Regions from separate parts of the Homo sapiens genome. Here region 2 is linked to region 1. Evidence: fine-mapped expression QTL. Tissue or cell type: whole blood. Region 1 holds a variant in brackets; the other region holds the start of a gene. All regions are shown on one strand. Distances are from middle to middle.

Region 1 (5,321 bases):
GGGGAGGCTGAAGTGTTTGGGGTGAAGTTGCTGCCTGCAACTTTGAAATGCATCAAGAATGGGATGGATTGTTGGATTGATTGAGGAATGGTTAGCAAAACATCAATTATAGAATTGGGATGGTGAGTATGTGGGTACCCTCTGTATAATTCCTTCAACTTTTCTGCGTGTTTGAAAATGTTGAAACAGAAGAAGAACTGCAGATAACCAATACTTGTGCCCTCTTGAGCTTTCTATAAATGAATTTCTCCAATGGTCAATGTCTTGTCTGTTTCCTACAGACTGCTTCACCCTGCTTCCTGGTGTTGGCAGAGGGGCTTTCTCCTTAAACCTGTTGGTGTGGGGGAATTTCATGAAGGATGTGTTAGCTTGGACTTCCTTTGATGGTGATGCAGTTTATCAACTTAAAATGATATGAACTCTGAAACACAGGGCTTTCTACCCTGTGGGCAGAAGGCTGGGGATTTGCAGCCTGAGAATAGCCCTGGCAGATTGGAGCCAGAGTTAGAAAAGGATGCCTGAGCTCCTCCTGACCAAAGGATGCCAGCTGGCTACCTTGCTGGGTGCTAGGGGAGCAATTGATATTTATAAAATCTGTGAAGTTGATTTTTCAAAAATTTTAACATTATATAATGTATTTGAACATATTCAAACACTTTTTTGAGACGACCTTTTAAAATCTGTAAAGTAATGAATGCCTGCTGTCTTATAAAAAACTACAGAAAATGTAAAGAAATAAGGCCAGCTACAGTTTTACAACATAAAGAAACCACTGTTTATATTTTAATATATTCCTCCGTGAATCTTTTTTCATCTTGTGCATTGTTTACATAATTGTGCTGTCTTTCATTTGACTGTAATGGGGGAGTTCTTTGGGAGGGAGACTCCAAGGCCTCCTTGATGTGGATGGGCCCGGAGCCTGGGCTGCTACTGTAGGGGTTCTGGGCTGGCCTAGCCTGAGAGACCTCCAGCCTGTTCACAGAGCCCATGTGAGATCCCGAGAGGCCCAGAACTTCTTAGACAGCTCTTTTTAAGCTGAAGGCACTTTTTGCAGGAGGCAGTAACATGATTGTCATCCTTATAATTTGCCTGTTAATTGAGCATTTCCCAAGTATGGGGCCCTGCACTAAGTACTTTGCACATATTCTCTTAACAGTAACCCTACGAGGGGGCCACTGTTGTCCCCATTTTCTAGCCCAACATCGGAGTTTAATTAGTCTGCGCTTGTCACATAGCTAGTAAATTGTGGAGCTGTTTTAGACCAGGTGTCCCAATAAGCACTTTGTAGTTGAGGCATGTTAACTCTTTAGAACTTTTTGGTTTTCAAAGCAACTCTTAATTGCTGCTCCTGGGAATATGCAGGGCAGATGGAAGGAACCTCTATTTCCTAATTAAGAAACGGACACCCAGAGAGCTGATCACCATTAATCCAAACTACAGGAGTCACGGGTAGGTGGGAGGCTCAAGGTTAGAACCTGGCTCTTCAAATTTGTTTTTTCAGGCCAGGCGCGGTGGCTCATGCCTGTCATCCCGGCACTTTGGGAGGCTGAGGCAGGCGGATCACCTGAGGTCAGTAGTTTGAGACCAGCCTGGCCAACATGGTGAAACCCCATCTCTACTGAAAATACAAAAATCAGCTGGGCTTGATTGTGCATTCCTGTAGTCCCAGCTACTTGGAAGGCTGAGGCAGGAGAATCACTTGAACCCGGGAGGCGGAGGTTGCAGTGAGCCGAGATTGCACCACTGCACTCCAGCCCAGGTGACAGAGTGAGACTCTGTCTCAAAAAAAAGTTCTCTCTCTCTCTCTCGATGGATGATCTCCCTATGTTGCCCAGGCTGGTGTTGAACTCCTGGCCTCAAACAGTCTGAGGAAGGAATCGTGGGGCAGGCTGAGATGAAAGCCTCAGGACTTGAGTGAACAGAAGGGCAGGAGTAGAATGTACTAGGTAGGGGCCCATCAGCAAAGGCTGGGCTAAGACCCTGTGGGACTTGTTAGGGGGTGAGGAGCTGCTGGTAGAAGGGCAGGGAAGAGCACTTGCTTGCAGTCTGACAAACCCAGGGCTTGGGGTGTGATATACTTTTTGTAAAAATTGAGGTTACTAAATCCTAGTTGGTGGTTCCCACTGAAAATTAAAGGAAATAATTTAGTTGGAATTGTCTGGCCAGGCATGGTGGCTCACACCTGTAATCCTAGCACTTTAGGAGGCCGAGGCGGGAGGATTGCTTGAGCCTAGGAGTTCAAGACCAGTCTGGGCAACATATCAAGATCCCCGTCTCAAAAAAAAAAAAAAAAAAAAAAAAAAAAGGGAGGAAAAAAGAAATTTCCCAACCTGCATGCTTGGCATATTATAGTGATGGTGCAATCTTTCTGAACTGTCTTACAAACAGTGGGAACCTTCGAAAGCTTTGGGTGGGGTGAGGGAGGGAGTTGACCAAGCCCAGGAATTCTGGACATTAGCATAACAGTGGGGCAGGGAAAGTGGGACCTAAAGTCCAGCCTGGTAGCTGTTTTCTGCAGTTGAAAGAGTGACAGAGGGAGAGGGAGAGAAAGACACTTCAAATGAGTCATCCACTGGATTTGGTGGTGGGCTGGCCATGGGGAGGGATGGTATTATGCTTTGTTCATTGGCTTTTTTATGACTCAGTTTACACTGGTTCCCTCCTGACTCACTGATGTTTCTCTTGTCCTGCAAGGAGCCTGTGTGAAATGCAGCAAAGGGGTGTTTGGGGCTGGCCAGGCCTGTCAGGCCATGGGGAACCTCTACCATGACACATGCTTCACCTGTGCAGCTTGCAGTAAGTGTGGGTGTGGGTGTCGGGTGTGTGGGGGATGC[G/A]TAAGGAACATGGGAACCGAGAAAGGGAGGAGAGAGATCATCTTTCTGGAGACGGTTGGTCCATGGCCCTCCTCAGCCCCACAGAAAAGCCAGACAGTGTCTTTTACAGCAGGGTTTCTTACCACCAACAGAAGCCCATCAGGGCACGGTGACTTAACACAATACCAAAGATTGCCTGTGATTCTGGTGATAAGTTGAATGAGTTCAGAGTGATCCCTAATCACATCAGGTTTGAAATATGTAAGAAGAGGTTTCAGAAGATTTGGGAGGAAGTGCTGGGATTCACCATGTCTACCCTGTTTGTCAGTTCTCTCCCCCACTGTGGGGACCAGCCAACCAAAAGTGATTAGTCAGTCAGCTACCCCAGTGTGAGGTGGAGGTGGGGGTCCTTTATTACTCTGTAACCACCTCCCTAACCTAATCTTTGATTTGGAGGCTGCTGTATGAGCATGAGGTGTGTGTGCATGCCACCCATGTGCTGGTGCCTACCTAGCACACACCTGTGGGCATCTTTGTACTCCAGTACATGCATTATAATTCAAGCAGCCCATCAGGAGTCTGGATTGAATGGATGGCAACCGCTCCCCGTGGAAGATTCTAACACATTGCATGCTTGCCAAGTCTGACCAAGTTATGGATTTTGCTTGTTTTCTGTCTCTATCAAAGATTAATTTTGAGGAGTATTTTTGGAAAATGTCCTACTTATATTCTCAATCCTATACTGAGGCTAACAGCTCTCAACTAAAAGGGAATGTTACAGCAGAGTCACAGGGTGTCAGGAACAAAGGGGTCTTTCTAACCATCTGGCCCCGTGGTTTGCAATCCTGGCTGCTCATTAGAATCACCTGTGGAGACTTTAAAACCCTGCTAATCAGAATCAGAGCTAAATCCTAATCTGATAGGATTAGCTAGGAACCTCAATCTGATTCTGCTAATCAAGGGTGGGGCCAGGGCATCACCCTTGGAATTTCTAGAGTGAGGCAAGTGTATTAATTTTTTTTTTTTTTTTGAGACGGAGTCTCGCTTTGTCACCCAGGCTGGAGTGCAGTGGTGCTATCTCAGCTCACTGCAACCTCCGCCTCCTGGGTTCAAGCGATTCTTTTGCTACAGCCTCCCGAGTAGCTGGGACTACAGATGTGCACCAGCACGCCCAGCTAATTTTTGTATTTTTAGTAGAGACGGGGTTTCACCATGTTGGCCAGGATTGTCTCGATCTCTTGACCTTGTGATCCACCCACCTCGGCCTCCCAAAGTGCTGGGATTACAGGCGTGAGCCACTGCGCCCGCCCAAGTGGGGCAAGTGTATTTTTTCACAGCTTCTCAGATACTTCCAGGGTGTGATCAGGGCTGACTACCATTGGTTTGGGGATCCTCATTTTGAATCCTTCTGGAGAAGGGAAGGGGAAGAACTTGCTCACAGCCAGAGATCCTAATTCCCAGTATAAAGTTAACCAGTGCATTGTGGTTAACCAGTGGCCTCCTAACCTGCTGAGCCTTGATGGTCCAGGCCTGAGTTCTGAACCTCATGCTTCAGTCCTCACTGCAATTTGCCTTAGAACACATGCCTGAGAGTTTATGGTTTACACATTGATCAGTGTTCACCTGTGTAGGGAAAGACTATGAGAATGTCCGCAGTGGAAATCTAGGAGTGGTCTGGTTATCGAATTCTCTGGGTCTCTGTGCCTTTCCTTGTCTTTGAGCTATGTTGCACTCTGTAAGTTGTAGAATATTGATGGTACAACACATTCTTGTCTATAGCAATGCAGACTGTCTGGTGAGGTGCAGTTGATGATTGTTACCCTGTGGAGATTGACCAGTTTTGCAATCTATTTAGCAAATTGATTTCAACATTCCTGATGGCCTATGGTTCTTTGAATTCTCCCCATTAAACCCATTAATTGGTTCCTTTATTAATTGATGAGTTAAATAAAGTCTTTGGCACATGTTTGTGTTTTATCCATATGGGAGTTGTGTTTAGGCCCCCCTTTATTTATTTATTTAGTTAGTTAAATTTTAATTTTAGTTTTAGATTCAAGACGTGCAGGTTTGTTACAAAGGTATATTGTGTGAATCTGAAGTTTGAGCTTCTATTGGTCCTGTCACCCACACAGTGAACATAGTACCCAGTAGAAAGTTTTTCAGCTATTTGGTTTTCTGTTTCTTGTGTTTCTATGTTGCTGCAAAGGACATGATGTCACTTTTTTATGGCTGTGTAGTATTCCATGGTGTATATGTACCACATTTTCTTTATTCAGTTACTGCTGATGGGCACCTAGGTTGATTCCATGTCTTTGCTATTGTGAATAGTGTGGTGATAAACATACGAGTGCAGGTATCTTTGGTAGAAGATGTACTTTTCTTTGCATATATATCCAGTAATGGGATTACTGGGTCAAATGGTAGCTCTATTTTTAGTTCTTTGAGAAATCTCCTAACTGTTTTCCACAGTGGCTGAACTAATTTACACTCCCACCAACTGTGTATAAG
Region 2 (4,548 bases), 42 kb before region 1:
TGTTCAAAGTTGTTATAGAAACATGTATTACTTGTAGATAAAAAACCAAAAAAAATTTTTTAATAAAAATACTTCATTTTAGTATAGTGCTTTATAGCAGTGCTTCTGTAACTTTATTGTGCAAATAAACCGCCCAGAAATCTTGTTAAAATGCAGATTCTGATTCAGTAGGTTGGCAATGGGGCCTAAGATTCTGCATTTTCAACAAGCTCCCTGGTGATATGGAGTCCATTAACCATACTTTGGGTTTACGGCAGCGGTCCTCAATCTTTTTGGCACCAGTTTCACAGAAGCCAATTTTTTCACAGACGGGATGAAACTGTTCCACCTCAGATCATCGGGCATTAGATTCTCATAAGGAGCGTGCAACCTACATTCCTCATGAGGGTAGTTCATAATAAGGTTTGTGCACCCCTCTGAGAATCTAATGCCACTGCTGATCTGACAGGATGTGAAGCTCAGGCGGTAATGCCAGTAATGGGGAGTGGCTGTAAATACAGATGAAGTTTCGCTGGCTTGCCTCCTCTCACCTCCTGCTGTGCCACTCAGTTCCTAACAGGCCACAGACCAGTACTGGTCAGTAGCCCAGGGGTTGGGGACCCCTGGTTTACAGAATATAAAGCACATTCATATATATTATCTTATTTGTTCTCTGTCACAACTCTGGCAGATAGGGGTTCACTAATTCACTTATTCGACCATTAGGTACTACTATTAATATATACCAGGCACTTGGCATACAGATATGGTCAAATGGAGTGGGAAACCTACCACCCAACCAAACAAAAAAAAACGCATGTTAACCAACAAATAAATAATTATAAATAGTTATCAGAACTGAGCAGGAAGTAAAGAGGGTGCTGAAAAAGAACAACAGGAACCACTCTGAGGAGGCCTCTAAGAGGAGGTGACTTCAGCAGGGATGGGAAAGATGAGCCACTCAGTTTAGGGGCAAGCTCTGGGCAGACACCAGGAAGCTCCTGCAGCTAGAGTGCAGGGAGGGAGGGAAGATCCCTAGATCTGGCCCAGAAGGCTGCGGCAAGGGGCCGATTTCAATTTAATTCTGGGGTAAGCACTGAGGATTTAGGTAGAGAAGTGTCTGTTCTAGTATTTGCCTTAGGATCACGATGGCTGTAGTGTGGGAAATGAAACCTCTCCAGGATCGCCTGGGAACTGGTATAGGGAGTCCCGGGCCATGCGGGGGCGCCAAGGAGTCAGGCCTGGTGTCCCTGCAGCCGCGCGGATCCACTTGCAGATGGGTCCCTCTACGAATAACGAGCCTACTAGGGCACGTGCTTTTACTGCTGCACTGAGGACGTGAAATGCGCGCAGGCACAACGAGACTTTCTTCTTTTTCGCTCTTTCAGAGGGCCCGGGCTCCCATCTACGCTTTGCTGGTTACGTTGGCATGTTGGGCATTTCCCCCTCTCTGCCTCAGTCTCCCGACCTGTCAAAGAGGACGGTGGGCCAGCCATGGGTGACACGCCCGTGCGCCTCTCCAATAGTGCACCTCGGGCAAGCCGGGCGGCGGGCACAGCCTGGACGGTGCCGGCCTCGAGAGGCACAAAGGGCTGGCTTTCCACCGGGGAAACTGAGGCAGTGGAGCGAGGAGCGGCGTCCTCGAAAGTCCTCGCAAACTCCCAGCGCCTGTGTTGGGCCCATGCAGGCTACCCAGGCCGCCCGTCTCCGAGCGGAGGACCCCGCCCAGCGCTGCCAGGGGCGGGGCCGGGCTGAGGACCCGAGGCTGGAAGGGAGGTCGGAGCACCCAATTCGGTCCAGGACTCGCAGGGGGCGGCAGTGGCGGCGGCGAAGTCCCGTGCAGTCCCAGTGCTAGAGCGTGGGACGGACTTGTGGGGCACCCCTCGGTGTTCTCCAGCCAGGCCTGGGGGCAGGAGGCCCAGCCACGCTGCCGGGTGCAGGCCTGCCCCTGGGCGCCCGCCCGCGCGCCGTCCCCGCCCCTCGGCCGCCCCCTCCGCCCCGGCGCGGGCTCGGGACGTGCAGAGCCGGCGAGCGAGCAGCAGGGACTGCGCCTGGCGCACTCACTTCCGCGTCCCGCCGCCCTCCGGCCCGCGCGCGCCGATCCGCCGCCGCCATCGGACAATGGGCCGCCAGCCCCAGCTGCCGTGAACTTCCTGCCGCTGCTCGGCCGCCCGTGCGTCCCGGACGGCGTTCCTGCCAGGCGCCGGCCGGGATCGCAGCTCCGGGGAAGCAGCGGAGGACCCAGCGCCTGGAACGTACCTGCGCCTCAGCCGCCGCGCGTTTGCTCCGGCCCGACTCGCGGCCTCGGCGCCCTCCCGGCCGATTCAGCTTCACCCGGCCCAGTCGGCTGCTGCCTTGCTGTGAGTTTCCGTGTTTGGTTGCCTAAGGAGGATGTGATTTTACTTTTTTGCTGTTTTCTTTTTCCTTTTATAATTTGAAGAGGAGAAAAGAACTCCGCTGAGCAGGCCCGGGACGGCGAAGTGCCACCAGCTACCCCAACAAGGACGTCTCCAGGGGAAAGGGAGTTGGAAGCAAACTTGGTCCAGCTGGCGTTGAGGTCTCAACTTCGGCTGGACTCTTAAATCCTGGGGTCATGCCCTTCACGCTAGGCAGGTGGAAGTCTTTACTTGTACTGGGCCGGACTTGAGCCCCGACCCTTCGCCAGCATCTCCCCGCTGCCCTCAACACACACACACACACACACACACACACACACACACACACACACACACACACACACACACACACACGGCACCTGGGCTAGGCCCGGACACCTGTCTGCAGCATGGATAAGTATGACGACCTGGGCCTGGAGGCCAGTAAATTCATCGAGGACCTGAACATGTATGAGGCCTCTAAGGATGGGCTCTTCCGAGTGGACAAGGGTGCAGGCAACAACCCCGAGTTTGAGGAAACTCGCAGGGTGTTCGCCACCAAGATGGCCAAAATCCACCTCCAGCAGCAGCAGCAGCAGCTCCTGCAGGAGGAGACTCTGCCCAGGGGGAGTAGAGGCCCTGTCAATGGAGGGGGCCGCCTGGGCCCACAGGCCCGTTGGGAAGTTGTGGGCAGCAAGCTGACTGTGGATGGTGCTGCCAAGCCTCCTCTTGCTGCCTCGACAGGGGCACCTGGGGCAGTCACCACCCTCGCTGCTGGGCAGCCCCCGTACCCACCGCAGGAGCAGAGATCCAGGCCATACCTGCATGGCACGAGGCATGGCAGCCAGGACTGTGGTTCCAGGGAGAGCCTGGCGACTTCTGAGATGTCTGCTTTCCACCAGCCAGGCCCCTGTGAGGATCCTTCCTGCCTCACTCATGGAGACTATTATGACAACCTCTCCTTGGCAAGCCCAAAGTGGGGTGACAAACCAGGAGTGTCCCCCAGCATCGGCCTGAGTGTAGGGAGTGGGTGGCCTAGCTCCCCGGGGAGTGACCCACCACTGCCCAAACCCTGCGGGGACCATCCCCTAAATCACCGACAGCTCTCCCTGAGCTCCAGCAGGTCTTCTGAGGGTAGCCTCGGTGGTCAGAATAGTGGCATTGGTGGCCGCAGCAGCGAGAAGCCAACAGGCCTTTGGTCCACTGCCTCCTCCCAGCGGGTGAGCCCTGGCCTGCCTTCCCCAAACTTGGAGAACGGAGCACCAGCTGTGGGGCCTGTTCAGCCCAGGACCCCTTCTGTGTCAGCACCCTTGGCCCTGAGCTGCCCCAGGCAAGGAGGTCTTCCAAGATCAAACTCGGGGCTGGGGGGTGAGGTTTCAGGTGTGATGTCCAAACCCAATGTGGACCCCCAACCCTGGTTCCAGGATGGGCCCAAATCTTACCTTTCCAGTTCTGCCCCGTCATCCTCGCCAGCTGGTCTGGACGGTTCACAGCAGGGTGCGGTCCCTGGGCTGGGGCCGAAGCCTGGCTGCACAGACCTTGGCACTGGTCCCAAGCTCAGCCCCACCAGTCTTGTCCATCCAGTGATGTCCACCCTGCCTGAGTTATCTTGTAAAGAGGGTCCCCTGGGCTGGTCTTCTGATGGTAGCCTGGGATCTGTGCTCCTGGACAGCCCCAGCTCCCCTAGGGTAAGGCTGCCCTGCCAGCCCCTCGTCCCAGGTCCTGAGCTGAGACCCTCTGCTGCTGAGTTGAAATTAGAAGCCCTCACCCAACGTCTGGAGCGAGAGATGGATGCTCACCCGAAGGCTGATTACTTTGGTGAGTGAGAGGCTGGTGGAGTTGCCTATGGTGGGGCGATGGGGTTCTTGAGATTGGGGAACATGCCCCCTACCAGGGATGCTGTGGGCTGTAGTTACCTCTCTTTGAGTGGCCTGTTTTTTTATTTTTTTGTTTTGGGCTTCCTCTTTCAGCTGCTTTTTCTGATTCAGAAACTTGAAAGCATCCTGGGGCAGAAAGCGGACCTTGCAGCTGGGGTTACCCATGTGTGAAGGGTGCAGCAGGGTGGGATTGCTCATGACTGCTCTCAGAAAAGAGAAATGCTGTGACTTTGGATTTCAAGGGTTTTGGGTGTGACTTTAGAGCCTCTTGCAGTGACAGGCTCATATAGGACTTCAGTGGGACCAGCTTTCTCAGG

What was found. PIP is the estimated chance that this variant, and not a neighbour inherited with it, causes the effect.
Region 2: it holds the start of LIMD1, and the variant in region 1 is fine-mapped to the expression of LIMD1 in whole blood (INTERVAL, PIP 0.94).

The regions. Positions count from the first base shown.
Region 1 is chr3:45,633,456-45,638,776 of GRCh38, forward strand. It overlaps LIMD1 (LIM domain containing 1), which reads left to right. Exons shown (of 8, transcript NM_014240.3): 2 at 2,695-2,796. Among named protein-coding and RNA genes, the nearest start is that of LIMD1, 41 kb to the left of the region's middle. The variant G/A (reference allele first, on the strand shown) is at 2,835.
Region 2 is chr3:45,592,116-45,596,663 of GRCh38, forward strand. LIMD1 (LIM domain containing 1) reads left to right here and starts at 2,636. Exons shown (of 8, transcript NM_014240.3): 1 at 2,636-4,172. The coding sequence starts at 2,765. RefSeq lists silencers at 1,643-2,112, 2,123-2,252 and an enhancer at 2,343-2,512.